Homo sapiens: one gene and its partner. The protein of the gene in region 2 purifies or fractionates together with the protein of the main gene of each other region. This does not show direct contact. Each region holds a gene or a part of one and is shown on either strand. Other genes may lie near its edges. The genes, in order: HMGXB4 and BPTF.

Region 1 (3,920 bases), on a different chromosome or scaffold from region 2:
GTCCAGATCCTGGCTCCACTACTCACTGTTTTGTACCTAGGCAAGTTGCTTACTATGCTGTGCCTGTAAGATACTAACAGCATCTGCAGCAGATGGGATTGAGATAATAGATATAATATACTTGGGATGGTGCTTAATACATGGTTAAGTACTCAAAAAATATCAGTAATTATGAATATTACTACCAACATCTTGATCTTCAAAACTGCATTTCTGGCTGTCTTTTGGGTCTCTCCTTTTGGATATTTCTCCATCTCAACTTCCTGTAAGGAAGAATAACCTTCCCATGCAAATCTAGCCCTCCTTTGAGCATCCATTTCTCTGCCAAAGTCACCACCATTCACATAACTGCCCAGTCTCAAGGCCTAGCCATCACTGACTCTTCCTTTCCCTCATCCTCCTTGTCAACATCTCCCCCCTATACTTTCTGAGGGCAGCAGTACAGTAAGAGGTTAAGAACCCGGACCTTGAGGTCACATTCCAAATTCAAGTCTCTATTTTACCACTTAGGGGCTAAACTCTAGAGAAAGTGACTTCACCTCTTTAAGTCTGTTTATTCTTCTGTAAAATGGGGGGAACAAATTCTGCCTCACAAAGCTGCAGTGTGAATTAAATGATATAATTCATATTAAGCACTCTGAACCAAAGCTGGGTGAGTGAGCCTTCAATAAAACATTAGTATACAGGGAAGATAATAGCTAAAACCCCAAAAATGTCAGTAATTAGTAATATTGTTCCATTTCCTTTGCCCTATATTTATTTATAGCTAATTTATCTTTGTCACATCTAGACTAGGATTATTGTTTTAACTTCTCCCCAATTCTGGTCTCTTTTCACTTCCAATCTAAAATAAAAGATATTCTCAGAGAAAAGTAAATGAGAGCTCTGATCTCATCCCTTTCCACTGTAAAAACCCCTGTAGTTCCCCAACAGTGAAGTATACACACTTCAGAATGTCTATGAAGTCCCTCTGCAATTTGGGTTCTAGCTTTAACTTTCTTAAGATACACACACACCACACGCCACACACACGCACAATTTTTATTTTTATTTTTTTTGAGACAGGGTCTCACTCTGTTGCCCAGGCTGGATGGAGTGCAGTGGTGTGATCTCGGCTCACTGCAACCTCCACCTCCCGGTTCAAGCGATTCTCCTGCCTTAGCCCCACAAGTAGCTAGGATTACAGGTGTGCACCACCACAACTGGCTAATTTTTGTATTTTTAGTAGAGATGGGGTTTTGCCATGTTGGCCAGGCTGGTCTCGAACTGCTAGCCTCAGGTGATCCTCCCACTTTGGCTCCCAGAGTCCTGGGATTACAGGAACAAGCAACAGTGCTCGGCCTCTAGCCTTAATTTTCTAACTTATGCATTGTATGTTCCAGTTTTACTGCTAAAATGATGAACATTAATTTACTACTGAACATATTATTTTGATAATTATATGTCCATTACGATGTACATTAAAAAAATAGAATATAACCCTTGAGATGTCATGAATGTCACTGTAAAAGCACAGACAAGTTTATTTAAATAAAATTATAAAGTAAGTAAAAGTATTAAGTGGTATGTGGAAATTATAAAATTGCAGAGATCTATGCAAATGATTAAATTCGGGCCAAAAGTGGATTAGAGGGAGAATGGGGAATAACTGCCAATGGGTACAGGGTTTCTTTTTTTTTTTTTTTTTTTTTTTGAGGCGGAGTCTCGCTCCGTCGCCCAGGCTGGAGTGCAGTGGCGCAATCTCGGCTCACTGCAAGCTCCGCCTCCTGGGTTCACGCCATTCTCCTGCCTCAGCCTCTCACAGGCGCCCGCCACCACGCCCAGCTAATTTTTTGTATTTTTAGTAGAGATGGGGTTTCACCACGTTTGCCAGGATGGTCTCGATCTCCTGACCTCATGATCTGCCTGCCTCGGCCTCCCAAAGTGCTGGGATTACAGGCGTGAGCCACCGCGCCTGGCTGGTACAGGGTTTCTTTTAGGGGTAACAATATGTTTTGGAATGAAATAGTAGTGATTCACAATTCTGTGAATATATTAAAAATCACTAAATTCTGCACTTTAAAAGGGTGAACTTTGTACTTACTAAACTAAATGGAAATATCTGGGAAAATTCAGAATACGCTTAAAACAAACTGTTTTTACTTCTAACTTCTTACGAAACGTAAGAATGATTAAATCTGAAAAATAAGTAAGGTCATAGAATACTTCTTCTGGAAATATCTATATCCATTCAGATATCGAGCCTATATGAAGGTGCTGAAGTTCTTTTGACTACTGCTAAAATTTTTAGAAACTAGCCAAAGAATTTAGATATAGCTTCAGCTCTTGTGGCCTTTGGCATTTTATTTGTTGAATAATTCAATTTCCACATTGAAGCAAGTGATTAGTTTTACATTCCTACACTAATTTCTTAGCTTAAAAATGGCTTTAGTAGCTTAGACTGACTTCTTTGCTGAAATGTCTTACTAGAACTTGGTGGAAAGCGGAACTACTATACTAATGAGTTAGCTAAGGGGACAATATTGTTAGAAATTGAATATGGTAATAGAAATGAAACACGACAGCTGTGCAGGTTAAGTGATTTTTGAAATTGAAGCTTAAAAGGACAAAAATCTCCCCAGGGCATATAGCACTGTATAATTTAAGTGCAGAGTAATGGAGAGCTGGGAACCTTAACTTCTCCATTTGTTACCTATTTTCAAAACAGAGGAACTCTTAATCTCCTATACAATTGAATATTCAAGACTTTGCTGGAAATGCAGAGAAAAATTCAAAGTCTCTTAGAAGGAGACAGAAGTAATCAAAACTGCTATGGAATTTGTACTCATCCTTTTTCTTGCCTTTTTGTTTTTGTTTTTTTAAAAAAGATAGGGTCTTGCTCTGTCACCCAGGCTGGAGGGCAGTGCAGCAATCATAGCTTACTGCAGCCTTTGAGCTCCTGGGCTCAAGCAATCCATCTGCCTCAGCCTTCCGAGTAGCTGGGACTACAGGTGTGCACCACCATGCCTGGCTAATTTTTTAATTTTTTGTAGAAATGGGGTCTCGCTATGTTGCCCAGGCTGCTCTCCAACTCCTGGCCTCAAGCGATCCTCCTGCCTTGGTCTCCCAAATTGCTGGGATTACAGACATGGGCCACCGTGCCCAGCCACCACTGCGTTTTTCTTTCTTTCTTTCTTTCTTTTTTGTGATGGAGTCTTGCTCTATCGCCCAGGCTGGAGTACAGTAGCGCAATCTTGACTCACTGCAACCTCTGCCTCCCAGGTTCAAGTGATTCTCTTGCCTCAGCCTCCCGAGTAGCTGGGACCACAGGTGCATGCCACCACACCTGGCTAATTTTTGTATTTTTAGTAGAGACAGGGTTTCACCATATTGGCCAGGCTGGTCTTGAACTCCTGACCTCGTGATCCGCCTGCCTCAGCCTCCCAAAGTGCTGGGATTACAGGCATAAGCCACCACGCCCGGCCCCATTTTTATTTCTTTTAAATTTTTTGAATATATGTATTTTTTGAGATGGAGTCTCACTGTGTTGACCAGGCTAGTCTCGAACTCTTGGCCTTAAGCGATTCTCCCAGGTGGGCCTCCCAAATTAGCATTACAGGCGTGAGCCACTGCGCCCAGCCTCCACTGCATTTTAAAAAAATAAAAATAAGTTACAGGGTACTCCAATTTCTTTTTGTGCCATTGTTTCAATAGGATATCATTAGTGAAACTTTGAGAGCTAACAGGTAGACTGAATATCTCTATAGATATTTCTGTTATTATCATTATATCTTCTATGTTACGCCATCCTGAGAACCTGGCATAATTTAGCATAAAGTAGATGCTCAATACATGTATGTAAAATGAGTGAATGAATCAAAATTATATGGGAAACTATATGGGAAACTGTAGTCATGCTGCTGATAGTTGTATTCACCTCA
Region 2 (3,920 bases):
TTTTTTTTTTTGAGACAGGGTCTTGTTGTGTCTTCCAGGCTGGAGTGCAGTGGCATGAAGATGGCTCACTGCAGCGTCTACCTCATGGGCTCAATCCTCCCACCTCAGCCTCTGAAGCAGCTGGGACCACAGGTGTACATCACCATGCCTGGCTAATTTTTGTGTTTTGTAAAGATGGGGTTTCCTCATGTTGCCCAGGCTGGTCTAGAATTCCTGGGCTCAAGCATCCTCTTGCCTCAGCCTCTCAATGTGTTGGGATTACAGGCATGAGCCACCGTGCCCAGCTAACAGGGTACACTTACACAACTTTCTGTTTTTAGTGGCGTTTCTAATTGCCTTTCATTTTTATCCCTGACGTTCTTTGGCTTAATCATAGCCTTATGTTTTTCTGTCTTAAACAAATTATCTAATGTATGAGTCATTTTCTTGCTCTACTGAGCCTCTGGGGAGTGCTCCATTCTCCTGCTAGGATTTGGTCTGCTGACATTTTACAGCCTGCTGTATAAATGTCATCTTGGGTCAGAGTAATTCTCATTGCTTTCCTGAACCACTTGTTTTCTGAACTCAAATAAACAAAAATTTCTGGCCGGGCACGGTGGCTCACATCTGTAATCCCAGCACTTTGGGAGGCTGAGGCAGGCGGATCACGAGGTCTGCAGTTTGAGACCGGCTTGGTCAACATGGTGAAACCCCGTCTCTACTAAAAATACAAAAATCAGCTGGGCATGGTGGTGGCTGCCTGTAATCCCAGCTACTTGGGAGGCTGAGGCAGCAGAATTGCTTGAACCCAGGAGGCAGATGTTGCAGCGAGCCGAGATTGTGCCACTGAACTCCAGCCTGGGCAACAGAGTGAGACTCTGTCTCAAAAAAAATATATATATATATATATATTTCTGGCCCAGCACAGTGGTTCACAGCCCCAGCACTTTGGGAGGCCAAGGCTGGTGGGAGGATCGCTTGAGCTCAGGAGTTCAAGATTAGCTTGGGTCATAGCAAGACCCTGTCCCTAAATAAAAAGATACATCATGGCCGGGTGCGGTGGCTCACGCCCGTAATCCCAGCACTTTGGGAGGCCGAGGTGGGCAGAACACCTGAGGTCGGGAGTTTGAGACCAGCCTCACCAACATGGAGAAACCAGGTCTCTACTAAAAATACAAAATTAGCCGGGCGTGGTGGCACATGCCTGTAATCCCAGCTACTAGGGAGGCTGAGGCAAGAGAACCACTTGAATCCGGGAGGTGGGGCTTGTGGTGAGCCGAGATCGCGCCATTGCACTCCAGCCTGGGCAACAAGAGTGAAACTCCGTCTCAAAAAAAAAAAAGATACTTTTTTTTTTTGAGATGGAATCTCCCTCTGTCGCCCAAGCTGGAGTGCAGTGGCGCCTTCTCGGCTCACAGCAAGCTCCGCCTCCCAGATTCAAGTGATTCTCTTGCCTCAGCCTCCCTAGTAGCTGGGATTACAGGCATGTGCCACCACGCCCAGCTAATTTTTTTGTATTTTTAGTAGAGACGGGGTTTCACCGTGTTAGCCAGGATGGTCTCCATCTCCTGACCTCGTGATCCGCCCGCCTCGGCCTCCCAAAGTGCTGGGATTACAGGAAGATACATTATTAAAAGGAAAAAATTTGTTTCCTTATTTTTGACAGCACACTTTTTTTTTTTCTTCTGAGATGGAGTCTCACTCTGACACCAAGGCTGGAATGCAGTGGCGCAATCTCAGCTCACTGCAGCCTGTGCCTCCCGGGTTCAAGCGATTCTCATGCCTCAGCCTCCTGTGTAGCTGAGACTACAGGCGTGCACCATTATGCCTGCCTAATTTTTGTATTTTAAGGAGAGATGGGGTTTTGCCATGTTGGTCTGGATGGTCTTGAACTGCTGACCTCAAGTGATCCACCCACCTTGGCCTCCCAAAGTGCTGGGATTACAGGCGTGAGCCACCATGCCTGGCCAATAGCACACACTTTTTAAAAATACCTGCCAAGAAAGGATGCCCTGAGTCCTCACATGACTGAAAATATATTTATTCTGCCTCTAAACTTGACTGGCTGCACAGACTTCTAGGCTGACAATCATTTTTTCTTAAACTTTTAGATTTATTCTTCCATAATCTTCTAGCACTAAATGTCACAGCAGAAAAATCTGACACCAATCTAATTCTTGTTTTATAGATTGTCGGTTTTATCTAAGAGTTTCTTTTATTCTTAGCATTTGGAAATTTTATAGCGATGTATGTAGGGGTGAGTCTTTTTCCATTTGTCTACCTGGTTTATGATGTTTATCAACTGTCCCCCTTGCTCCACCCACCCCTCATAGAGTGCAGGGGCTTTAATTTATTCACTGCTAAATTCCCAGTATCAGGCACACATCAGGTTCTCAAAAGTTATTTGCTGAGTGAAGGAATTTATTCTGCTAGAATTTAAAGTCCTGTGACAATCATCAGCTCAGGAAATTCTTCTTTTATTCTTATTTTTTTTTTTTTTTTTTTTTTTTTTTTTTGAGACAGGGTCTCACTCTGTCACTCAGGTTGGAGAGCAGTGGTGTAATCACAGCTCACGGCAGCCTTGAACTCCTGGGCACAAGTGATCGTCCTGTCACAGCCTCCTGAGTAGCTAGGACTACAGGTGCATGCCACTATGCCTGGTTAATTTTTTAAATTTTTGTAGAGACATGGTCTCATTATGTTGACAAGGCTGGGATGTTCCCCCCACCTCCTGTGAGAGTCTCATTGTCACCCAGGCTGGAATGCAGTGGTGTGATCTTGGCTCACTGCAACCTCCGCCTCCCAAGTTCAAGTGATTCTTGTGCCTCGGCCTCCCAAGTAGCTGAGATTACATGCGTGCGTCACCACACCTGGCTAATTTTTGTATTTTTGGTAGAGACGGGGTTTCCCCATGTTGGCCAGTCTGGGCTCGAACTCCTGACCTCAGGTGATCTGCCTGCCTTGGCCTCCCAAAGTGTTGGGATTACAGGCGTGAGCCACTATGCCCGGCCACTTCTTGAATTTTCAAAAAAAGACTTTAAGTAGATCAACAACAAACCCAGCAATTTGTCCACTTCTCCTTGGCAGTAGATCATAACCCTGGAGTCTTGATTTATTTATTTTTTTTTTAAAGATATTTAAGGTTAAATTTACCATAAACTGCACTGGTTGAATCGTTAGACAGAATAGTATAAAGAGTGTGAAGAGTTGAATTAATTCAGAATACCGAACCCATCTGCTCACCTGCTAGCTTTGAAGCCTTTCAATTTCTGTACAAAGAATGATTCGAGAACTTCTGCACACTGGTAAAATGGGGAGTCACTTGGATTGTAGTAACGACAGTTATCAAAAATTTTGGTCATATCTGCCACAAATTCCGTCAGCTTTTCATAATATCGTCTTTGTACTCTTTCTTCCATGGTGGCAAGGTCTTAAAAACACAAAATGTAAAACATTTTCAGAGCTTTAAGGTTTTTCCAATGTGAATATTCTCCGAAGTTCTAACAAGTATATATGTTTACTGTGCAAGCAGTCCTGGAGCCAGGCTGGTTCACCCTGGAGGTTATTTTGCAATTCATAAAGAACAAAAGAGTACTTTTCCAATTTTGTTTCTGATTGAGGTTCTAAAATATAAATCCGGGTTGCTGTTAAGGTTCTTTTACTTTCAGGTAACTGCACAGAACCGTTCTTCATTCAAATGGTTTGAAATCAAGGAAACACACCGACATGCTCTATGCATATCTAAGTATAATGCATTTTTACATGCAAACCATTTAGTGTATGTACAAAGATGGGAATCCAGAATTAAGAACAAAATCTCTGTACTAGTGGCTTTATGATCCTGGTATTAGACTTTAATAACATCATTTTGCTTTATTTTTATTGTTACCTTTTATTTGTGACAAAGTGATACTGTCTTACCATTCATGACTGGATTGATA

The links.
Region 1: the proteins of BPTF (region 2) and HMGXB4 fractionate together in Homo sapiens (co-fractionation; 3 studies listed by BioGRID, with this or other methods). This does not show direct contact.

What each region holds. Positions count from the first base shown.
Region 1 is NC_000022.11:35,288,404-35,292,323, reverse strand, and holds part of HMGXB4 (HMG domain-containing protein 4), read right to left. Parts: coding exon 3,917-3,920; intron 1-3,916. UniProt on the Homo sapiens protein: Negatively regulates Wnt/beta-catenin signaling during development.
Region 2 is NC_000017.11:67,975,261-67,979,180, reverse strand, and holds part of BPTF (nucleosome-remodeling factor subunit BPTF), read right to left. Parts: intron 3,410-3,920; coding exon 3,223-3,409; intron 1-3,222. UniProt on the Homo sapiens protein: Regulatory subunit of the ATP-dependent NURF-1 and NURF-5 ISWI chromatin remodeling complexes, which form ordered nucleosome arrays on chromatin and facilitate access to DNA during DNA-templated processes such as DNA replication, transcription, and repair.